3 separate regions of the Homo sapiens genome follow, and all the other regions are linked to region 1. Evidence: fine-mapped expression QTL. A gene starts in region 1. Each other region holds a variant in brackets. All regions are shown on one strand. Distances are from middle to middle. Region 1 holds the start of SLC60A1 (solute carrier family 60 member 1). Region 2 overlaps SLC60A1 (solute carrier family 60 member 1). Region 3 holds the start of ELK4 (ETS transcription factor ELK4).

Evidence for each region.
Region 2: its variant is fine-mapped to the expression of SLC60A1 in thyroid (GTEx, PIP 0.97).
Region 3: its variant is fine-mapped to the expression of SLC60A1 in tibial artery (GTEx, PIP 0.96).

The regions. Positions count from the first base shown.
Region 1 is chr1:205,564,895-205,573,075 of GRCh38, reverse strand. SLC60A1 (solute carrier family 60 member 1) reads right to left here and starts at 4,062. Exons shown (of 10, transcript NM_181644.5): 1 at 3,777-4,062. The coding sequence starts at 4,006. It overlaps SLC60A1-AS1 (SLC60A1 antisense RNA 1), which reads left to right and starts at 3,771. Exons shown (of 4, transcript NR_152721.1): 1 at 3,771-3,947. It also overlaps the pseudogene RNU2-19P. RefSeq lists enhancers at 2,683-3,231, 3,232-3,781.
Region 2 is chr1:205,601,941-205,610,121 of GRCh38, reverse strand. It overlaps SLC60A1 (solute carrier family 60 member 1), which reads right to left. Exons shown (of 10, transcript NM_181644.5): 10 at 7,204-8,181. It overlaps ELK4 (ETS transcription factor ELK4), which reads left to right. Exons shown (of 5, transcript NM_001973.4): 5 at 1-2,179. Among named protein-coding and RNA genes, the nearest start is that of ELK4, 26 kb to the left of the region's middle. The variant A/G (reference allele first, on the strand shown) is at 4,195.
Region 3 is chr1:205,628,963-205,637,143 of GRCh38, reverse strand. ELK4 (ETS transcription factor ELK4) reads left to right here and starts at 5,133. Exons shown (of 5, transcript NM_001973.4): 1 at 5,133-5,512. RefSeq lists enhancers at 4,746-5,055, 5,666-6,085, 8,089-8,181 and silencers at 5,226-5,375, 5,466-5,655. The variant C/G (reference allele first, on the strand shown) is at 4,808.

The sequences.
Region 1 (8,181 bases):
GCCCAGGTTGTCTTTGAACTCCTGGGCTCAAGCGAGCGTCCCACCTCAGCCTCTCAGGTAGCTGGAACAACAAGGCATCCACCACCACACCTGGCTGGATAAACCACGTTTTTGTTTGTCCATCCATCCGCTGATGGACATTTGGTTTGTTTCTACTTTTTGACTCGGATGAATAATGCTGCTATGAACATCCACGTACAGGTTTAGTGTGTGGACATACATTTTCAATTCTTTGGGGATCATACCTGGGAGTTGGGACCCTATGATAGCCCCATGTTGAGACTGATTTTTAAAACAAGGACAATGTCTGGTACTGGACGCTCAGTAGGCTTTTGGCACAGGTTTGTTGCATGCTGACTGGTAGACAAGGTGCTGGAGGGAGAGGCAGAGGCTTTCTGGATGGGAGACCAACCACAGCCCAGCTCAAGGGGAGAAGCTGGTTTGTCCTGTGTTCCAGGGACTGGAGGGGGCCAGCATATCTAGGGGTGGCCTGGGCAACTGGTGTATGGAAGACAGGGTTTGGTGCAATGGCCAGGAGGGAGTCATAGCTAGGTCTGGGGCAGGGTAGGACTTGCAGATTAGGAGGAATTTGAGGGGGAAAAAAGGAACAAAAAGAGAAAAGTGAATAGGTCAAAGAGAGGAAGAACTCAACAGATCCTCTGACAAACCCTCTGTTAAGAAAGCATGGGCAGGGGAGAGGCCAAGGTGAGGCTGGGAGAAGCCTGGGGAAGCTCTGAAAGTTGTTTACCTATGCTGACGCCTTCGAGATAAAGGGGTCTCCTAATTCCCTAGGGCGGTTAGACAGATCCCCAAGAAACCAGGAAAAATCCTAACCTTTAATCTAAATACCCCTTCCCCTTTCCTGCCTGACAAAGCACACACCTACACACCCTTGCCAACCAGGTGGCTTTTTGTTTTTCTCTGAGAGAGTGAGCAAGCTGGTGCTGCCCTGAGCTCAAGTCTTCCCCTGCACCCACTCCAATAGCCAAGGCTCTCCACCTTCCACACGTAGTCCTCCCAAAGCACATCCCTATGGAGGCATCCACAAGCCCCATTCTGCCTGTGCCCTCAGTCTGGGCCCAGCAGTAGGCAGGACCTGAGTAGGAACCCACGAGAAAGACACTGCCCCCAACTATCCTCTCCCATGTGTCATCCTAAACTTTCCCCCACTCCCCCGCAACAGCTGGCTCTCACAGATTTGTTAAAGCAATCCCCCACTCACAAGTATAAACCAAGTGAGAGCGTTAGCTGGTAATCACTTAAGCTGCAAAGCACTTGCTTGCAGGGGTATTGCATTTTAACTGAGACATGGTCCCACAGAATCCAGCTTTAAAGCTTTGTTGCAGGGCTGGTGGAGCTTCTGGCTGGGGGGATGGGAGACTGTGATGAGAGCTGCCCAGAGTCAGCAAGGTGGTGGGAGACTGTCGCCTACACTCAAGGCCACCCCTGGACATCCCTCTGTTTCCACTGTATATCTGCTTTGCTCTTAACCAAAGGAAAGAGTTCTTCATGGCATTTTGTCTTGGGGGTGGGAGGACTGAGGTTCAGAATTTAAACCTCAACCACTGATAGGATCTACCCCACCCCAAAAAGATCCCAGCAGGAAGCCCCAGAGGGCCACCATTACATTCCCAGAAGTTGTCAGAGCTCAGGAATACCCAGCCCATGAGCATCCTTAGGGCTACTCATCCCAAACCTGTGCCTGATCTGCAGAGTTTACACTGATGACTCACAAAGCAAGAGGGATTGCCTAAGTATCTGTCTTAGAGACAACACCTGGGTTCAAATTCTGTCTAGGCCTCTTCTTAACAACCATGTGATGTGGGCCAAGTTTCTTAACCTCTCTGTGCCTCCACTTCCTTATGCATAAAATGGAGATAACAGTACTACTTCGCAAGGTGGTTGTGAAGATTAAATGGGCTGATACATGTGAAGTACTATGAATAGTGCCTGGCACACAGTAAGTGCAGAATAAAGTTAGTTATCATTGTTACCATGATTTTTTTTCTCTTCTGTGAGCCAGTTCCTGCTGCAGGGTTCTCTCTGCTGCCTGTTCAGAGCCCCCTGTTGGGTAAGCAGTGCTGAGGAAGATACAAAACTACCCAGGAAGAGATGGCCCAGCTGGGTGGGTGTGCATCTCTGCTGGCTTCACAAACCCTGCCCTGCCAACCTGTCATTTCAAATTATCCTCCTTCCCCTCCGTGTTCTTTGCACTACATATTTTCTTTAAAAGTTCCAGGTAAAGGAGCTTTTGTAAGTCAAAGTACTTAAAACCAAAAAACCTGTGCTAGCCACAGATACTTTATCTTAGTTTCTAATTAAACCTCTAGGCAGAATGAATCTTGAGCTTGTCCTTAAGATTTTCTGAATCTTCTGTATATTCCAATCCTGTACCACACCCACAAAACACTGGTGTACACAAGGAGACTTGCTTTTTAAGAAGAGAATAATTTGGTTTACAAGAAGATTTGGGGAAAATGGGGATAATCGCTTCCAAAATTGGTCATGTTTTTAAGGCTTAAAGTGGGGTCCATCTGTACTGACACCTGTGCTCCTTCCACCAGCTCTGGAAGCAAGGTGGATGGAAACACCTGCCCTCACGAACACCTGTAGGCGTTAAGCCAAAGGGCATGACCACAGCCCAGAACGGCCCCTCCAGAGGTTTCTCTGGGATAGCCCAACTGCGGTTTTTTCTCCAGGCCGGCTGCTTGCTCGACTGAGTCCATGGGATCTAGGAAACCACTCAGCCAGGAGCTGGGACTGGGGAAATCAAGCAGCAGCCTCTGGCTTGCAAGTCATCTATTCCCTATTCTATTATGGGTCTCTGTTTTCCATGCTGCACTGGGAGAGTGAATCTGGCTGTCTTTCCACAAGGGAGCCCGGAGGTGGCCCTGTCCAATTTAAGCCGAGAGAATAAGGCTCTGCAATAGTGTCAAAGGGGGATTTCTGGGGGTGGTGCCAGGGAGAGTCCAGAGCCCTGTCGTGGGGCAGAGGCCCAGCAGGAGTAGGATGAGGTGGGTGGGGAGTGGAGGGGAACCTTGGCACCAGGGCTGGAGAGTCACCTTACCAAGCTATGGGTAAAGTGCCCTGCCCCTCCCAACCTGGCCTTAACGGTGAGGTCCTGTGTGTCTCGGGGGCCCATGCAGGAACCATGTTCTGGCTGCCTCAGGAGGAGGGCTACACAGAACCCACTAAACCCCGTGGCTACCCGGGGGAAGGGACAGCCTGTGTTAGCTGATGTGGAGCTGCCTACAGTGGAGCCTGGCCCTGGGAATCAGTCAAGCCGCAGGCCACCTCCAGCACCCTGCACCGCCACAGAGCTGGCCCTCCCACGGTCCTTCCACCTCACTGCCAATCCCGCCCCCGGCAGCCGGGGCTACTGACAAACCCCAGAGGAGCTGTGTAAGAGGGGCACCCTCCCCACCTCTGCAAACTCTATCACTCCTCTCCCCACGGGGCGGTGGGTGGGGGAAGCAGGTGGGAACTGGTTTTATCCTCTCACAGGGATGAGTGATGACAAATAAATAAGCCAGAAGTCACCTTCAGTCTCTGGAGAGAGTTTTCCAGGGAGAGCTGCGGGGGAGGGAGGGAGGGAGGGAGGCAGCTCTTCGGCCAAGATGGAGCTGGGAGGGGTGGTCGCGGCCGGGAGGCGGGGGCGACGGGCAGCCCCACGGGGCCGGGGGAGAGGCCGGGTCGCGGGGCGGGAGGGAAGGGTCGGCCCGGCGAGGGTGGGTGCCGGGGGCCGCGGGGCGGGGGCGCACGGGCGCGGCACTCACGTCCTTTTGAAGACGCCCCCGAGGGCGCTGCCCAGCAGGAGGCAGAGCTGCTGCGAGAAGAAGACCCAGGAGATCTGGGGCAGCGAGCTGTGCGTCTGACAGCGCAGGTCCAGCAGCGTGGGCCCCAGGAAGGCGATGCACAGGCCGAAGCTGAAGAAGACGCTCCAGTAGGTGAGCGTGGGCTGCAGGTTGCGGCGGAGCAGCCCCGACACGCGGCCGTCGCAGCCCATGGCGCAGGCTGACGGGCTCGCGGATCTGGTCCCGGCGAGCCCGGTGCCCGAGTGCCGCCCGCGGGAGGGCCGGCCGGGCTGGGGAGGCCCGCGGCGGGGAGGGAGGGGCGGGGAGGGGCCGCCCCAGCGAGGGGCCCCGCCCTTGGGCCCGGGCGGCGGCGGGGGCGCCTCTGCGGCGGGTGGGCAGTGCGTCCGCTCCCGCGCCTTCCCCGTGCGGTGCCAGGCGCCGGCCTCCCCCTCCTACCCGAGCGCACATGCTCGCCCTCCCCCGGCTGCGGAGACCAACCGGGAGCCGCGCTGCCCCCCGCCCGCTCTCCCTCGACCAGTCCCCCCAGCCTCCGGATGCAGCCCCCAGGGACCGAGCGCCCATTTTAGAGCCCGGCAGATGGAGAGCCCGAGACATCCTGTATCTCCGGATAAGGCTAGGGGCCCTCTCCCCGCACCCGGGCTGTGGCAGTGGAGGAAACCCGGACCCCTTTAAACCTAGGCGCTTCACAGATGGACTTCGAGGGTCTAACGGCACCCCCCTTTCCCCCAGAACAGAAGGCAAAATCTTGTTGTACATATGTTTCTCCTTGGGAGAGTATTCGTGCATGGCTTTCATTAGAACCCCAAGAGGTTAATCACATTGCCCTTTAGAAGGAGAACCCTAGAAACTCAACATCTTCCTCACACTAAGCTCCCTGGAAGGGCCTGAGATGAGGCCCTCCTCCCCACCTGGCCAGGTGCGGGAAGGAGGAGGATGACGCTGGTCTATGCTGACTCTCTCTCTCTCCTTCTAACTAGTTGGAGGAGGGCAGAGAGGGAAGGGCCGCGTCCTGGAGGAACCCCGGGAGGAATTCTGAAATAATCTCCTAGAAAAAAAAATTTAAAAAGAGTTCTGGGGAAAATTCTTTCTTCCATGGATAAATCCCTGGCAGTGAGTAGGGGTTGATTATTCTCTAGACTGGGTGTCCTTCGAGGAGCCTGCAGCTGACCTAGGCTGTCCCTTCATTAGGTGGCCTCGGGCTGGCTGGTGGGTTCTGTGTGTTCCCGCTCCTAAGGGAGCCAGGATCTGGCCCCTGGAGGCAGAACAGTAAGGCCCTGCGGTGTCCCCTCTGCCCAGGTCTTCTGGTAATGACAGGAGCCATGACATCATTTCCACTGGCCCACCAGGGGGACCAGGGCTGAAAAGACTGAGGAGGTATGTGGGCGGGTGTCCCCAAGACAACTTGGCATGAGGTGGGGCAACCAATTTCTCTTGCAGGTACTGGTCCCATCTCATAGCCGCACCCCTGCATCTGCCCTATCCCTTCTTGGACAGTGAGCCCCAGAGAAGGGGGAGCCCCAGGGTCCCTCTGGCTCATCACTCTGTGGGTAATGACAAGTACTTATTCGATAGTGATGATGGGGGGCCTGCACAGTAATTGTAATAAACTGAAAAGCTACCCTCTGGGGGAAAAAAAAAGAAAAAACACCAAACAAATCATAACCACAAGTTTTTGACTGAGTCTTCTCTGCCACTATCACAGAACTCCAGGAACCATAGAAGCTCAGAATTGGAAGGAATAGCCTCCAATTGAGTCCCCTATCCCCTCCCCATAACTGCCTTTGAATGCTTGCCAGTCCTGTTCTTGACTGACACCTCTAGTGCTGGGGACCTTGCATATTCCTAGGGGCTCTGCTTGCAGTGTGGATGAGCTCTGGTTGTAGAAATGGTCTTAGGCAAAATTGAAATGCTTCGCCCTGTAACTGCTCCCCACGGCCCCACACAGAACAAATCTAATTGCTCTGTCATGTAAGTCCTTCACACCCAAAATGACCTTGCCCTAATGATTTTGCTTCTCTAGCCCAAACACCTGAAATCCTTCCATAATTTCCCTAAATGGCGTTCCCCAACTACAGCACCTTGCTGGCTCAGCTCCTCTAGCCACAGTAACAAATGACCCTGCCACAATGAGGTAGCCCCCAGTGCCTGGGATGCTGGAAGCATTCTGAAGCTTGATCTAGGTGGTAGTTACACAGGTGTAAATATATGTAAAAACTTATTGGTCTGTAGATTTAAGATTTGTGCATTTTTGTGTGTAAGTTATACTTGATTAAAATGGTAAAAAGTAAAAATAAAAAGTAAGTAAAAATAAAGGGAGGCATTCCACCGTGAATACAGTACTCAGCCTCTTCATAGTCAAAGACCTATTGGGTTCTGGTACTGTACAAGGTCCTCTGGTTGAGATAAGCAGATATGGAAACAAGTTACAGTTGTCTCTCCATATCCCATATCCCGTGGGGGGATTGGTTCCAGGAGTGCCTGCAGATACCAATATCTGATAAGAACAGATACTACACTTGGTCTTGCCAAAAGGCTGAGAAACGATAGATACCAATATCTGAAGGTGCTCAAGTCCCTGATATAAAATGGCATAGTATTTGCATATAACCTACATCCATAGGCCTGTATACTTTAAATCATCTCTGGATTACTTATAATACCTAATACACTGTAAATGCTATGTAAATAGTTGTTATACTGTATTGTTTAGGGAATAACGACAAGAAAAAAGTCTGTACATGTTCAGTACAGATGAATTTTTTTCCCAAATATTTTCGATTTGCAGTTGGTTGAATTTACAAATGCAGAACCCACAGAGACAGGGGGCCAACTGTGCAGCAGTGAGGTACCTTCTGTAATGGGGTGGTTTGAGGGCCTGGAGAGCTAAGTGTCTAATTCTGCCTGGGAAGGCTTCATGGAAGAGGTGACTTTTGAGTGGGGTCTGAAAGCCAAGTCTATATGTGAAAACGTTTTGCTTATTTTTGCTTTCTTCATCCCTTTCTCTGTCCCTTCTGTTTTCCAGCATCACACACTGTCCACCTCCTCTAGGCATCTTTCCCAGATGAATTAATTCTATTAAATTCTTATTTCCAGCAAGACTCTCATCCACTCCTGTACTGCTACCCTATCTTCACAAGGCCAGGTATTACATTCCACGGACTGTTCCTCCAGCCCCTTACGGGAGCCAGTTAAATCATGAGTTCCTAAGGGCTGGGAGTATATTTACCTGTGTTCTAACTCCACCCCTTCTCATGTGCCTCACATAAAAGAATGCCTTGCAGATAGCAAGTCCTGGACAAATAGCTGGTGAGGTGAATTGTTTGCACAAAAATTATACAATTACTTTTGGCTTTACATTTACATGTCTTATCTCCCACTTACAAGTTCCCCAAGGGCAGACGCTATCCAGTCTTTCCTTTGTGCTGTGTATTCACATGTCTGTTCTTAGTTGGGCACCTTGTGGTTATTCTTAAATTTGAAGGGCAAAACCTTGGATCCTTCTTTAACTACTCTCTGATTTCCCCCCTTATAAATTAGAAGGGAATTATCCCCCACCGTCACAAGCCAAGGAAAGTGATCTGAGACTCCCAAATATGGAAAGGTTACATTAATTGGAATAAAGGATCTGTGGGAGTAAAGGGTTCTCAAGCTCTTGGAGCCTGAAATCTATTAATTGCCTCAAGGGTTGGCTCTCCAGAAGCCTTTTTCTGACCTTCCTAGGCTCCCTCCTTGGGGCTCCCAAACTATCCTAGTGCTGATTCTGTTTAGTGCCGCCCTTCCAAGGCAAGGACCACAGGATTGGTTCATCACTGGGTGCCTGGATTTCTGACTCCTTGGTGAGAGGTGTTTATACTACACTGAACTCTTGTGTTTTTTTTTTTTTTTTGAGACGGAGTCTTGCTCTCTTGCCCAGGCTGGAGTGCAGTGGCATCATCTTGGCTCACTGCAAGCTCCGCCTCCCGGGTTCACGTCATTCTCTTGCCTCAGCCTGCCGAGTAGCTGGGACTACAGGCACCCACCACCACGCTCGGCTAATTTTTTTTGTAGTTTTAGTAGAGACGGGGTTTCACTATGTTAGCCAGGATGGTCTCGATCTCCTGACCTCATGATCTGCCCACCTCGACCTCCCAAAGTGCTGGGATTACAGGCGTGAGCCACCACACCCGGCCTTTTATTTATTCATTTATTATTATTATTATTATTATTATTATTATTATTATTATTATTTGAGATGGAATGTAGCTCTGTCACCCAGGCTGGAGTGCAATGGCGCAATCTCAGCTCACTGCAACCTCTGCCTCCCAGTTTAAAGTGATTCTCTTGCCTCAGCCTTCCAAGTAGCTGGGATTACAGGTGCACGCCACCA
Region 2 (8,181 bases), 37 kb before region 1:
ATTCAAGAATGCCTAAAGTTCAGGGGTGGGAATGCCATATATTGGTGTTAATCACTTGGCACTTTCTTGGGCACCAATATTAGCACTGTTTCATTTTTAATAACTGGAAGCACTTAATGATTATTTTGTTTGTTTAATTTCAACTTAAGGATATTGAGGGTCAGAGAAGTAAGGTTTATTTCTTGTTTATGTTTTCTGGAATTTATAGGGTGTTTGTAGAAGGGATAAATGGGTTACCTAATGAGCCATTCTTCTAGGCTCTGTAAGGTATGCCCTTTTGGCTAGGATATTTTAAAATAATTTGCAAGCTTTTAATATTGTGCTTTGTAGAAATTTACGATTTTTAAAAATAATTTGCAATTGATAGATTACACTTAAATTTATAAAGTATCCAATTTTAAGTTTCTTTTCTGTTTGGTCATTGTTGCTTATTGTCTATTGTGTAGGGGACACAATCCTGACATTTCATTGTTTTGTTACTTGGGGCAGTATTAACCAGTGGCCTTTGTATGTACATTCATTGCTTACATTTATTGTTTAAGTGGTAGAGTAGCATTTTTATGAACTTCCCTGTTCAGTATTAGTGAAATTGACAGATGCGTATATGTAAAGATAGAAAAGAAACGAATACAATTAATTTTTTATTCCTTGAGGCCTATTTATTTGTTTTGGCCCTGGATCTTTTCTAATCACAATTATATTTCTTTATTTTTGCCTTTGAGCAGTTTCATTTATCTTTGTGGGCAGGGAAGATTAAATATGAAATTCAGTCCAGTCATTTTGCTACTGGTTAGCTTTAGTTTGAGGCAAGTAAAAATTTTTGATTAAAATTAGTTTCTTAAAATTATGCCCTTGCTTTACCAAATAATCAAATTGGCTAAAAAATAAGGGTATGTAACTTTGCATTTTGAAGAACAAACCAATAATTTTTCATGAGCCCTACTCGATCTTCTTTAAAGAAGACCTTCCTAAGAGACAATTAGGGATGAGTTTGATTAATGGGAAATAGCTCTAGGTTAGATTATTTTAAATTCCATACACCAAGTGATTTAACCACAGTGGCAGTGGCAGTTTCTGAACCGTCAAGTATGAACATCACTTAAAAATTAAAAGATGCTTAATAATAAACTCTTAATTTTCATTAAGCCAATCTGTAATTCAGAAGAAAAGCATATGTCTGCCATGGGACTATTGCAGTGCGTCTCCATCAGTGTTAACACAGGAGAGATATGTTATTTTATGTGTATGTCTTAGTTTGGGATATGTGGTAGTAAGAACATGTCAAGAGTGCTTTCTTCAAACCTGTCAGCTCAACTGAGAAGACAGTTACTTCATTGCTTATTTTTTCCCTTGTTTTATTGAAATCTGTATCTCATATCCAGTATCTAACACTTTGTAGAGATACTTACATATAATGTAAGTGCACACCTACCCAGAGGAATGGATAACTGTTAAAGTGTTAATAATAGCTCGTCTTAGTTGATTTCAGCATAATTTACATTAGGGAGACCTAAAAAGCACCTTCAAAGTATTAAAAGCACCTTTTTTTTTTCTTTTTCCTAAAAAAGCAATTAAAATGGTCACTGCTAACATTTATTAAACTTCATGTTAGTTGATGAAACAGCTGGAGGGAAGCTGCCACATCTCCTAGCTAAGCAGTCTGACTTACCTGTTGGGAAACAAAGGGATATTGCTCTAAGATTGATTAGGATGATTGTAGCTAGAGTCTTGAATTCTATCTGTATACGGCAGAGAAACTTTATAGAGTGTAGAGAGGTGAGCGAAAGGATGCAAAAGCACTTTGAGGGCTTTATAATAATATGCTGCTTGAAAAAAAAAATGTGTAGTTGATACTCAGTGCATCTCCAGACATAGTAAGGGGTTGCTCTGACCAATCAGGTGATCATTTTTTCTATCACTTCCCAGGTTTTATGCAAAAATTTTGTTAAATTCTATAATGGTGATATGCATCTTTTAGGAAAGATATACATTTTTAAAAATCTATTTTATGTAAGAACTGACAGAGGAATTTGCTTTGTATAATGCAGGCTGGCTTTACAAAAGCACTGTAGCAAATTTACTACAAGTCTAAAAGTATACATATATGTTAATAGATATATGTGCAACTAGATATGGACAGCAGTTGTATTTTTTTAAATAAATATTTTTAACAAAATGATTTTCTGAATTGATTATTTATTCCCTTCTCTCACATTCATTGAGGTGGTCTCTTTACAGTCTCTGTATTACATTTTCATCCATGCTAACTGTGGGTCAGGAAAGAGTTGTTTTCCCAATGGCTATCATTAAAATCTGGCCTTCAACAATTTGATATGTATCTACATTAAAATATTTAAAGTCTAGATTCAGATAGGTGGTGAACAGGGGAGATTGTAAAATGATTGTTGACATAAAAGGAATTAAGAGAGAACTGAGTGGCTAGAAAAAATATTCACCATGTGAAATCTCTTTTTGTTTTACTTGAAAAATAAAGGGTTTTTAAAAATTTAATCAGCTGGGTGCAGTGGCTCACACCTGTAATGCCAGCACTTTGGGAAGCCAAGGCAGGTGGATCACCTGAGGTCAGGAGTTTGAGACCAGCCTGGCCAACATGGTGAAACCCTGTTTCTACTAAAAATCCTCCCAAAATTAGCTGGACGTGGTGGGGTGTGCCTGTAGTCCCAGCTACTCGGGAGGCTGAAGCAGAAGAATCGCTTGAATCCGGGAGGCAGAGGTTGCAGTGAGCTGAGATCACACCACTGCACTGGTGTGATCATGGGTGACAGAGCAAGATCCTATCTCAAAAAAAAAGAAAAAAAAATCAGAGGCTTTTATCTAGCCCTTGTAAAAAGCAATGTAGACTTCACTTAGCAAATGAAATTAGGCTTTTTTAGAATTGGGTCAAAATAATATACATAAGGGAAAGTGGGTTGTTTTGTTTTGAGACAGAGTTTTGCTCTTGTTGCCCAGGCTGGAGTGCAATGGTGCGATCTCGGCTCACTGCGACCTCTGCCTCCTGGGTTGAAGCGATTCTCCTGCCTCAGCCTCCCGAGTAGCTGGGATTACAGGCATGCGCCACCACACCCGGCTAATTTTGTATTTTTAGTAGAGACGGGTTTTCTCCGTGTTGGTCAGGCTGGTCTGGAACTCCTGACCTCAGGTGGTCCGCCCGCTTTGGCCTCGCAAAGTGCTGGGATTACAGGCATGAGCCACTGTAACCAGCCCAAAAGTGGGGTTTATAGGTGGCAAAATGACAGCAGAGAGCTGTTTTCGTATCTCTTAATGAAAATCACAGGAGGATAGAGTGACAGATTGTTCTGGGGCAAAGGGGGCAGTTCACTACCCTGGTGAAATGGGTGAAATGTCACTTTGGTTGGTGGGTCAGTCAGCATGTGGAGCACAGTGAGGACTACTGCATGCTCCTAACACACTGCTCTCAGAGTATCAACTGCGACGGTAGTCCCACGAGGTAAAATCAGTTTGGGAAATGGGTTCTTCACGGAAATTCAAAAGGAAATTTCAGAATATGAAAAGTGCCAAGTCCTTCAGTTAAAAAGCCTGTTTAGGCTGGGCGTGGTGGCTTATGCCTGTAATCCCAGCACTTTGGGAGGCCGAGGCAGGTGGATCACGAGATCAGGAGATCGAGACCATCCTGGCTAACACGGTGAAACCCCGTCTCTACTAAAAATACAAAAAATTAGCTGGGCGTGGTGGCGGGCGCCTGGAGTCCCAGCTGCTTGGGAGGCTGAGGCAGGAGAATGGCGTGAACCCAGGAGGTGGAGCTTGCAGTGAGCTGAGATCATGGCACTGCACTCCAGCCTGGGCGATAGAGCGAGACTCCATCTCAAACAAAAAAAAGCCTGTTTAAGTCACCACCGTTTTCTAACCTTTCTGACTGTTGACACTTATTTTGAGAAGCCTACCTGTTTTGCAAGCACTTTCTGTGTTTTATAGGTGCGTTTAATGACAAACTAATACCCTAATATTGGGTAATTTTCCAGGGTTGGCATTATCAGGTAGGAGATAATAATTAACAGTTAGATGATTTCACATTGATTGTTGCTACAAAACACTGTACTAACTGGACGACCGACCCCCTGTAACTGCAGGGAGTCTATGAAAGTGACTTCATTTTATTAAATGAAACAGGAGTGGGCCGGGCGCAGTGGCTCACGCCTGTAATCCCAGCACTTT[A/G]GGAGGCTGAGGCAGGTAGATCACCGGAGGTCAGGAGTTAGAGACTAGCCTGACCAACAGGTGAAACCCTGTCTCTACTAAAAATACAAAATTAGCTGGGTGTGGTGGCGCGTGCCTGTAATCCCAGCTACTAGGGAGGCTGAAACAGGAGAATCGCTTGAACCCGGGAGGCGGAGGTTGCAGTGAGCCAAGATCACGCCATTGCACTCCAGCCTGGGCAATGAGAGTGAAACTCCGTCTCAAAAAAAAAAAAAAAAGCGCAAACTCAAACAGCTGTGCCAGTCAGCTGACAAGCATTGGTGTTAAGGAGTCCATTGGATGGTTCCCATGTTTTTTGTTTTGTTTTGGGGTCAACCGTGCTGTCACCCAGTCTGAAGTGCAGTGGCACAGTCATGGCTCACTGCAGCCTCAAACTTCAGGGCTCAAATGATCCTCCCACCTTGGCTTCCCAAAGCACTGAGATTACAGGCATGAGCCACCACCATATGTTTTGAATATGTCACCATAATTAACCAAAACTATCTTCTTTGGTCAAGGTCATATTGCCTTACATGTTGCCACATCTGGTGGTTGACATTCGGTGTTCATTGGACCTCTTGGCAGCACTGATTACTTAACTCCTTCTTGAGATGCACTTCATGTGCCCTCCAGGAAACCACATTTTCTCCTGAACTTCCTATTTCTCTGGCTTTTCTCATGTGCGCTGCTGGGACTTGTTCTTTTTCTAAAACTCTAGATGTTGAAGAATCCCAGGGCTCAATCTGTCCATCTCTACATTCATTCCCTAGCTTGTGTCATTTTAGTCCTATGACTTTAAATACTTCTTTATGTGACCACAAAATTTGTATCTTCAGCTTTGACTTCTCTTTTAAACTCTAGACTTCTATATCTAACAGCCTTCTTGACATCCAAGATTGCATCATAAGATGATCATGTCCAAAATAGAACTCAGAATGTCTCCCCATGGCCTTCCAGAGTTAAATGGCTTCATCATGTACCCAGTTACTTAGGTCAGATTCCTTCAGGTCATCGTTGATTCTTTTTTGTTTGTTTTTTTGAGACGGAGTTTCACTCTTGTCACCCAGGCTGGTGTGCAGTGGCGTGATCTCACTTCACTGCAACCTCTGCCTCCCAGGTTCAACCGATTCTCCTGCCTCAGCCTCCCGAGTAGTTGGGATTACAGGCACCTGCCACCACACCCAGCTAATTTTTGTATTTTTAGTAGAGACAGGGTTTTGCCATGTTAGCCAGTCTGGTCTCGAACTCCTGACCTCAGGTGATCCATCTGCCTTGGCCTCCCAAAGTGCTGGGATTACAGGCGTGAGCCACCGTTCCCGGCCCATCCTTGATTCTTATCTTTCTCACACTACACCCAATCCATCAGCAAATTGTCAGTTTCACCTTCAAAATATTGCTTGAATCCAATCACTTTCACCACTTCCGTTGCTATCTACATTTCCAAGCCACCATTATTTCTTCAGTCTATTGCAGTGGTACCCAGGTGGTCTTCCCAATTCCATGCTTGCCCCATAGTCTCTTTTCCATAGTAACCAGTGATACTTTAGATATGTAAATCAGATCGTGTCGCTTGCCTGCTCACAACTCTTCCAGTCATCTTACATCACTCCAAAAAACCTCTACACATACCATGGCTTGTATGATCTGGCCTCTAGCAACCACTCCCACTTGTTCCGTTTGACTCTTCCTCACTGCAGTTGAGCCACACCAGCCTACTTGCTGTTCCTCCAATACCATAAGCATATTCCAGCCTAAGGCTCTTGTACTTGCTGTGCCCCCTGCCTGATGGGATGTTTTCACGTACTTGGATAGCTTGGTCCCACGTATCATTTAGTTTTCTACACAAATAGGACCTCCTTAGAAACGCCTTCCAGAGCATCTTTTTTTTTTTTTTTTTTTTTTTTGAGACAGAGCCTCACCCTGTCACCCAGGCTGGAGTGCAGTGGCACAATCTCAGCTTACTGTAACCTCCACCTCCCAGGTTCAAGCAATTCTCCCACCTCAGCCTCCCCAGTAGCTGGGATTACAGATTACAGGTGTGCACCACCAGGCCCAGCTAAATTTTGTATTTTTAGTAGAGACAGGATTTTGCCATGTTGGCCAGGCTGGTCTTGAACTCCTGATCTCAGGTGATCCGCCTGCCTCAGCCTCCCAAAGTGTTGGGATTACAGGTGTGAGCCACTGTGCCTGGCCCTAGAGCATCTCTTGACATTCCCTATTCCCATTCCATACTCCCTGTATGTTTCTTTATGGTGCTACATTACCCCTCACCCTGTGGCATTCCCATATCCTATTCCATATTCCCTGTATGTATGTTTCTCTATGGTGCTACATTACCCCTCACCCTGTGGCATGTTACGTGTAGTATTTGTTTGCTGTCTGTATGTCTTCACCTGCGGTATAATCCTTGTGAGGCAGGGACTTCTGTCTCAGTCACCACTGTATGTCTGTACCTAGATTAGTGCCTTGAACATAGCAGGTGCTTAACAAATCCTTTTTGACTGAATAAACGAAATTCACTCTAAAAGAACTCTATGTCACTGTGTCTTCTTTTAGTGAATCCGATGTGCCTGATGGGTTAGATTTCCATATACAAGTAGCAGAGGAAAATCTGGGAACAGGGTGATTCCACAGGATTCTGAAATGTCCAAATTCCTGAAAGGAAGATGAGGAAGAAAGTCCTACTTGTGTAACTGAGAAGCGTGTGGTGTAAGAATCGACCTGCCTTTTCCTTATTCCTTATTCTGATTTTATGTAATAGGGAATAGTGGCACTTAGCCCTGCTATGAGAGGTTATTTATTTATTTATTTATTTATCTTTTTTTAAAAAAATTCAGAGTTTCCCTTGTGAGACAGTTTTCTTTCTTCTAAAATATAAGCCACATTAACTTATTAGTATGAGAGAGACCTGCCTCTGGGGAACATCAGACCATTTGTTTCTGAGTGTATGCAAGAGGATCAATTGTTCTTCATAATGGATAACACACTTAATAAGTTTAAATATTTTATTTTAGGAAAGGTACTCTTAGATTTGTGTTAATGTTGTTTTCTGTATTAACAAATTAGTCACAATCAACTTCGATATAGCCATTGATTCTTCTTTCTAAATCTGTATAAAAAGGATATTTTCTTGAAAAACCACAAGAAAAATACAACTGCTTTTTCATTGCCCAGGTCAGTTACTCGCTACAGTCAGACTGCATTTAAATTAGACTGGCATCTAATACTTTTGAGTATTTACAAATATAATTAAAACTATACTCCTAGACCACCAGCTTTCAAAAAAGTTGGATCTGCTTGACTTGCAATAAATATGTACCAAACATGAATAATTTCTAAGCCGCTTATGAGGAGGTTTTAAAAATTACTAACATTTATTAAGCAGTTTGTGTGTCAGGCATATTGTGAGTGCTTTGCTTTATACAAATTCACTTACTTTTTTCAGAATTCCTTTGAGGTAGGGTAGGTACTTTTAGAAATGCCATTTTACATGTGAAAAGTGAGGTTGGAAGAGCCTCAGTAACCTGCCCAGGGCCACACAGCTAGAAGGTGAGCCAGCACTTGAGCCACGTTTCTCTTTCCAGCCAGATTCTCAGCACTCAGCTGTGCTGCTGGTGGTCACAGCTGGCTGACTGGACCAGGAAGAACCTTTTAGTGTCAGGCGTGTGAATCACAGCACTTGGGACAGGTTACCAAGAACCATGATCACTTAATTTTTATATTTATACATGTACATTTGTATATACATAGAGAAAGTGCAGGCAAAACCATTATACAGTTACTCTAATAGCCATTTGCTACTGCCAGCAGTCTCAGGACTGATCCCTGTCTAAGCTGGCAAGTTTACATTCTCCTTGTATCACTACAGGATTTGCTCTGGACAGGAGCTGTAACTCCTCAACAAATCCTGCTTTCAGTCTACTACTGCACAGCTTGAATTGTTCAGTAGGCCCAGCTTTTTGTGAAAGA
Region 3 (8,181 bases), 64 kb before region 1:
TGTGTACACGACTCACAAGCCAAATTTTCTAGCACAGCAGAACAATTTTGTTTTGCTGCTGGATATATAAAGCAAGGAAAAAAAAAAGATGGCATTCCATCTTTTTGAATTAGCACCAAGTCTTTCAAACTCCACCCTTTCCAGGAAATGTTCTTTAATGCAGTGGGAGGTGGTAATTTTACTCTCTCCAAACCCTCATTTTACTTCCCTCACAACACAAAACCCTGCTCAGAGCTGCACTTATATCTTCGTTTGTCAGCCTGACTGCCTCTCCCATCATTTCTGAATCCTTAGCTGAATTCTTTGTTCATGTCAACGGGATAGCAAAAGAATTCTGAAAATGCTGGAAGTCGTGGACAGCAATGATGGTCGCTGAGGGTGTCAGTGTTGCCAATTCAAGACTCAGAATTCCTAGAAGAGCAAATGCTCTTTGAGTTTCTTCTGTAATAACAGCATAGTATCATATATTGGTGCTTCCTTAATTAACTTTAATTGAAGAAGTTTTTTTTCCAGACAGTGATTATAAAATACACCAGAGAGGAAAAATTATTTTGGCTTAAAATTCAGAGCAATATGTATTCTGCAAGGAGCTGGTCCAAACACCAGAATCTTAAACAATTATACAAAAGGCAGATTTCATGAGCTTTTATCAATTAAGGAACACCTTTTCCAAAGGTGGCTCACGCCTGTAATCCCAACACTTTGGGAGGTCAAGGTGGGCAGATCACCTGAGGTCAGGAGTTTGAGACCAGCCTGGCCAACATGGCGAAACCCCGTCTCTACTAAATACACAAAGATTAGCAAGGCATGGTGGCACACGCCTGTAATCCCAGCTACTCAGGTGCCTGAGGCAGGAGAATCGCTTGAACCCGGCAGGCAGAGGTTGCAGTAAGTCGAGATCCCATCACTGCACTCCAGCCTGGGTGACAGAGTGAGATTTTGTCTCAAAAAAAAATTGATATATTCTCTCTTCTTTCTCTATTACATATTCCATATCAATTTTTATAAGTCTAGAAATAATACATTTATCAAAGACCAATAAAATTACTTGAGGTTAAAAATATTAAAAGAAAATAAGTAGACTGGGTGTAGAGATCAAGAATGAAAATTATATGAAGCTATTTTCTGACCTGTGTTTGTGACAGGTCATCAAACATATTAGACAGTTGCTATGCCTCAGGCGGTAATTGCAATAACTCATGTCTCGTCATGTCCTCTCTGAAAAAACAATGTATTGTGTGGAGATTACAGCTAGTCCTGAAAGATGTTGCCATGAGTTTACTTCACAGTCTAGAGGCCACAAGTACCTTGTTCAATGACCTTCAGATTGGGTTTTCTCCGGACCCTTAATACCCTCTGATTAAAAGCCTTATTATTGGGGATGAAACGTTTACTGGTTATATTTGGTAAAGTTTAGGACCTTAACAGGTAGTAGGGGTTGCCAGTGCTGCCAGATTCAATATACAGCTAGCCAGAGTTTTCTTTTCAAAGATAACTTTACCTCTATCTAAGATCTCAGTCCACACAAATATAACAGCAATAGGGCTATTTACCAAGAGTTCAAAGCATCATTTGATCAACCGCTTTTTTTTTTTTTTTTTTTTTGAGACGCAGTTTCGCTCCTGTCACCCAGGCTGGAGTGCAGTGGCACGGTATCAGCTCACTGAAACCCTCACCTCCCGGGTTCAAGCCATTCTCCTGCCTCAGCCTCCTGAGTAGCTGGGATTACAGGTGCCTGCCACCACACCTGGCTAATTTTTTTGGTATTTTAACAGAGATGGGGTTTCACCATGTTGGCCAGGCTGGTCTTGAACTCCTGACCTCAGGTGATCTACCTGCCTCAGCCCCCCAAAGTGCTGGGATTACAGGTGTGAGCCACCACAACCAGCCTACTGCCTTTTTCTTTTAGTCTATCCATTACAGACATGAAGTGAAAGGTATGTCTCTTTTATTTCTAAAGATGTTGAAAGTGAAACCCAGAAAGGGTAAGTCGCAAGGATTTTCTCAGGAGGTTCAAGTTTTGAGTTTAGGGAGACCCAAAGGCTAGAACCCAGATATCCCAGATTTTTATTCTTTCTTCTCAGTCATGTTGCAATTTGCTCCACACTTGTCCCCACCTGGGGTTGTGGGTGCTGTCTTTGACTTAAAAGATATCTCTTCTTAATGTCACGTGCTACAGGATATTGCTTGAAAGACGTAACAGGCAACTGGATGGCTCCATGCTTGCTTAGTCAGTCAAAAATCCGTGAAACACTTCTTTAGGAAAAAGGGATAGTGACTGGGAGTAATGATGAAGCAGTGAAATAAAGAGAGGGAAGAGGAAGTTGCCTTGAGAAGTAATGATCATAACTAGGTGTTATTGGGATAGGAAATGTAATTAAATTAGGGGCAAGGGGTTGCAGAGCTGAGTTAACTGCAGTGATTAAGAAAAAAAATCTAGGCCAGGCCCGGTGGCTCACATCTGTAATCCCAACACTTTGGGAGGCCAAGGCAGGCGGATCACGAGGTTAGGAGTTTGAGACCAGCCTGGCCAACACGGTGAAACCCCGTCTCTACTAAAAATACCAAAATTAGCTGGGCGTGGTGGTGCACACTTATAGTCCCAGCTACTCAGGAGGCTGAGGCAGAAGAATCGCTTGAACCCGGGAAGCGGAGGTTGCAGTGAGCCGAGATTGTGCCACTGTAACTCTAGCATGGGTGACTGTGTGAGATTCTGTCTCAAAAAAAAAAACAAAAAACAAAAAACAAAAAACAAAATCTAGGGCAGGCCAGGTAGAAAATACATATTTAAACATTTTAAGCCAGGCGTGATGGGTCACGCCTGTAATCCCAGCACTTTGGGAGGCCGAGGCGGGCGGATCACCTGAGGTCAGGAGTTCGAGACCAGCCTGACCAACACGGAGAAACTCCATTTCTACTAAAAATACAAAAAAATTTAGCCGGGCATGGTGGCGCATGCCTGTAATCCCACCTACTTGGGAGGCTGAGGAAGGAGGCTCGCTTGAACCCGGGAGGCGGAGGTTGCGGTGAGCCGAGATTGCGCCATTGCACTCCAGCCTGGGCAAGAAGAGCGAAACTCTGTCTCAAAAAAATAAATAAACATTGTAATAAAATCTACAAATTTTCTTTGGGATGGCTCTGAGTAACTAAGGCTAAGATCAGGAATCCATCTATCTGGTGGGAAAGTGACCAAACAAGATAACGAAAAAGCAGTCTTTTTGGTTGACCAACGTAACTACCATGGAGTTTGCACAAACAGAACCATCTGTTGTGTGAGGAACCATGGAGAGAGATTGTGTATTTATAGAATCTTGAGTGGGAAAACCAGGCACATTAATTAACTTTTCCCCTCAAGTTCTCTAATTAGAAATCCACTTTTCTTCCTTTCTCTTCTGTCAATATGTACCGCCTTAAAAAAAAGTCAATTTAAAAGCAGACAGATTTGCTATGACTAATTTAAGAACTCCCAAAGCAGGCTGTTTTCCAAAAATACACTGCAATTGACAATGCCGTAAGCTCAGTCTAAAAGGGATATGACACAACTACTGGCCCTAAGGCCGAATCAGATGTTTACTGCCAGTTTGAACAGAGCAGCGTAGTGTGCAGATCTCCACAACCCTTAACTGTTCTTGGTAGGGGGCTTTAAAATGAAATCTTTTTATAAACAAATGTTTCCAATAGGTGTATCCTAAACAGCCTACCTTAATACTTTTTTTTTTCTTGGTTTCCAAGATGGAACTTGTTGCAAGGAAAATTTTATGTTAGGGGCCAAGACTGCTAGTGCTTTTCAGATACTGCATGTTCCTTATAAAACATGTCTTAATATGTTTGCATGCTTTGGTAAAACTAATTTTGGAAAGGTAACATCTTTTGGTAGAGTTGTTTTTACAGGAATAGCTACCTTTGTGGATTATAATTACTCTGTATTATGGAAGAGGAGGCTGGAAATCAAGGAAGTGATGATTCTCTTCCAAAAGCCTACAAAAGGATGACAGAATCACATTTCACTCAGTGAGTTCAATTAACTATACATTCAATTGTGGGGGCAAAAATAAATGACACCACGATTTACTGGGTATCTACTATGTGCTAGGTAATGCACTAAGTACATTATGCTCTATACTTCATTTAATCCTCTCAGCAATGCTGCTCATTATCGTCATTTTACATGAGGAAACTGAGGTCCAGAAAGGTTAAGCAACTCACTACAGGTCACACAGCTAGTAAATGGCCTCGAATAACCAGTAACTCAGACACTGACCTCTCTTTGGTTTCTTGTTAAACAAACACCTAATTTATTTCTTGGAGGTTTTGTTCAGCTGTCCTAATTTATGACTTTACATTCCTTCTGGTGCTAAACTGCTCAAGTAGCCTCTTGTATCAAGTGTGACCTGATTCCTTAAGAATTTTACTTAATGAGAACCTCTAAGCTAGAAACTCTTGCTAGGTGTTTCATGCACCTTATTTTCTTTAATCATTACAACAACTCTAAGATTGGGTTCTCTCCACCTTATAAATGATGACTGTTTTAGAGAGGTTAAGGTTGCTTAAAATTGGTGAGTTAGTGAGGGGTAGAGCCACGAATGGATTTCTGGTCGCTGCCTCCATCGTCAGGGCAAGCTTTTCCCACGACTCCAGCGCTTCCATTTGTCAGTCCCCAGGCTAGAAAGCCACAGTGCTAATTTAGTATTTATCAAGCGTTTGTAGTGTCCTGGGATCTGGCACTTCGATGAGAAAGCTGTGACGGCCCCAACTTCTAACAGCGAGTGGTAAGGAGGACGAGGGACACAGGAGGGAGGAGACTCTC[C/G]CCAAAGCTTAGCACCAACAGAAGTGGTCCCCCGCAGGTTGCTCTGCGAGCGCCACCTCTTCCCTCCAACCGAGGAGAAAGTGGCGCGCCTTTGAGGAGTCCGAGGTCCCGGCCCAGGCGGCAGCTTGGGTCCTGGCGGGTTCCGGACGGGCGCCTCAGGGACCTGGAAGCAACCGCACCGAACGCGACGGAGAGCGGCGAGACGACTCCAGGAGGCGCCCGAGCTACATCCCCCGGCCACACCAAACCCGGGTTTGCTGGCAGACGCGGCTCACGACACCCCTTAGGGTCGCAGCCCCTCCCCCGGAAGTGACGTGTAGCGACTACGGCGTCTGGGAGGGACCCAGGAGCAGTCGGGGGGTTTGAGAGTGGCGGCGGCCGCGGAGGGCCTGGCAGGCCCCGCCGCTGCAAGGAACGCCCCGAACGCGCGCGCCCGGCGTGTAGCGGCCCCAAGACCCGCGCCGCCGCTGCCGCGTGCGGGGGCGGGGAGGGCGGGGCGCCAGGAGCCGCGGCGGCGGGAGATGCGGGCGGCTGCGGGCACCCGGCGGGCTCGGCTTGGCCGCCGCCGCCTTCTACGGCTCCGCCGCGGGGGTCGCAGCGGCTGCCGCGCCGTCCTCGAGTTTCCAGCGTGAGGAGGAGGCTGAGGGCGGAGAGGCGCATCGTGTTCGAGGCGGAGACCGAGGGGGAGCCCCGCGCGCGGCGTCGGTGAGCGGTCAGCCCCGCGCGCCCCCTCGGGATCTCGCGGCCACAGCCCCACCGGCCGGGAGCGGGGGCGGGGGCCGAGGGGCGCGCGGCACAACAGGAAGTGGGGGCGGGGGCCGGGGCCGGGCGCGCGCGCTCCCCTTGGGTCCGCCCCCGGCCCGCCGGGCACCGCGGCGCACAGGTGGACGCCGCAGCGCACCGCTCAGCTCTCGTCGCCTCTTGGTCCCCCGAAGTCTCGTGGGCGAAAGGTGGCGGCGATTTTTTCGGCGTGGATGGGGAGGAGGGGAGCAATTCTCATTTTCTGTAGTGACAGGAAGTTGGAAAATGAAAGTACAGTAATTCAGTGCTTACCAAGGCCCGGTGAGGTTGCACCTCTTCCCCCAGACTTTGATCTCCTGTAGGGCACACGCGGCCGTCCGCGTTTCTTCCTCTCCCCTAGCTCGCTAGTCATCCGGTGTCGAGTTTCATTTCTTTTTCTCTTTCGCTCCAGCGGCCCCCCGCCCCTCTTTACTTTCCGCCTTGTGCACAGCTGCATCGAGGCTGGTAACTTCATTCCTGGGAAGATCAATTGGAAACATCTTTCGGGGCGGGATAGTAACTGGCCTTGGAAGGAAATAGGGATGTTGTTGACTGAAGTAGTCAAAAGTACACACTTCACTTTTTCTCCAGCTATTGCTATTTGAAATTTGGGGAATTTAAATAAAGATTCTGGAGTTCTATGCCTCATCAGAATGGTTTGTCCATCTCTTTGGTTGATAGATCAGATCCTCTGTCGTCTTTTCCCACCCCCTACACCCCCTGGCTTGGAAAACTTGGTGCTTCAATATTTAGGTTTGGCAGCGGTGTTTTCATTAAAATGTAGTATGATTCAATATTTTCCCTTCAGGAACACTCTTCTCTTTGATTTTACTTAAACATTAAAACTGCGTAAGTGGAATCTGTTCATTCCTAGTGAGGTAGTGTCTTTAAGTTTTATTGTAAGAATATTGTAAGAACTGTGCAGGATCCTATACAAAGAGTATTTTTTAGGAGCCTGTGTAGTTAAAAACGTCATGTTACTTTTGGTTACTTTTTGACAACGGTGAGTATTTTGATTCGAAACTAGGCTTGATACATTCATAACTTGGTTTTTTAAGTAGCAGGCTGAAGAAAATTTGGAGACTTTGTGTTTTTTTGGGTCTTAGCTACTGTCTCTGAAAAATAGTTGGGCTATGGGTCACCACAGCAACTGGACTGTGTGTATTATAAACATGTTTAGGGTGGAAAAGGTTTTATTTAATAGAGACTTCCTTTCCTTAATACATTACTTCAACATGCTCCCTTTCAATTTAGGACAGGGATTGGTCTATCTTTGAAGTGTTAAAATAGAATCAATTATGTTTTCAGCCTTTACCCCCTCAAAAATCAAATACCTTCATTTGGACCAGTTAAGTGTTTTCTTCCTTTGTTATAACTTTAAACTTTAAAAATTGCAATTGTGGAAAACTCGGGATTCCTGTAAGAAGGAAAATCAAGTAATTAGCCTCTTTTTTTTTTTTGATAGGTAACAAGAATAAAAGGTTTTGTTTGGTTTTGTTTTGTTGTGTTTTTGTTTTTGTTAGAGACAAGGTCTCACTCTGTTGCCCAGGCTGGAGTGCAGTGATGTGGTGTCTGCTCACTGCAACCTCCATCTCCCGGCCATTCTCCCACCTCAGCCTCCCGAGTAGTCACGCACTACCATACCCGGCTAATTTTTTGTATTTTTGGTAAAGACAGGGTTTCAACATGTTGCCTAGGCCAGTCGTGAACTCCTGAGCTCAAGCTCCCCCCTTGGCCTCCCAAAGTGCTGGGATTACAGGCATGAAGCAACCACATAATTTTTAATAACTGTCTTAGGGGATTTTTTTTCTTTAGCTTTTATTTTATTTATTTATTTTTTGAGACAGGGTCTTGCTCTGTCGCCCAGGATGGAGTGCAGTGGTGTGATTTCAGCTCACTGTGACCTCCGCCTCCTGGGTTCAAATGATTCTTCTGCCTCAGCCTCCCTAGTAGCTGGAATTACAGGTGCCCACCACCACGCCCAGGTAATTTTTGTATTTTTAATAGAAACGGGGTTTCACCATGTTGGCCAGGCTGGTCTAGAACCCCTGACCTCAAGCGATTTGGTCTCCCAAAGTGCTGGGATGGTAGGCGTATGCCACTGTGCCCGGCCAGCTCTCTTTTATATCTGATGAAATCATTGAAGATCATTGTTAATACCACACTTTTTGAAACTAAAATGAAGAGTTTTGACTTAACTATGTAAGAAGACGTTGGCTGCTTTTCAATCAAAAGAATAACGATATCATAATTGAATTAATAAAATATTCCTTTAAAGTACCCAGTGAAAATGTCCACTTTATATCTTTTTCTCAAAATTCATTTCTAATACTTCAGTCTAAAACCTCAAAGCCATTTTTTTCTTTTCTTTTTTTTTTTTTTTTTTGAGACGTAGTCTTGCTCTGTTGCCCAGGCTGGAGTGCAGTGGCACGATCTCGGCTCACTGCAAGCTCCGCCTCTCGGGTTCACGCCATTCTGCCTCAGCCTGCCGAGTAGCTGGGACTACAGGCACCCGCCACCACGCCTGGCTAATTGTTTGTATTTTTAATAGACACGGGGGTTTCACCTTGTTAGCCAGGATGGTCTCCATCTCC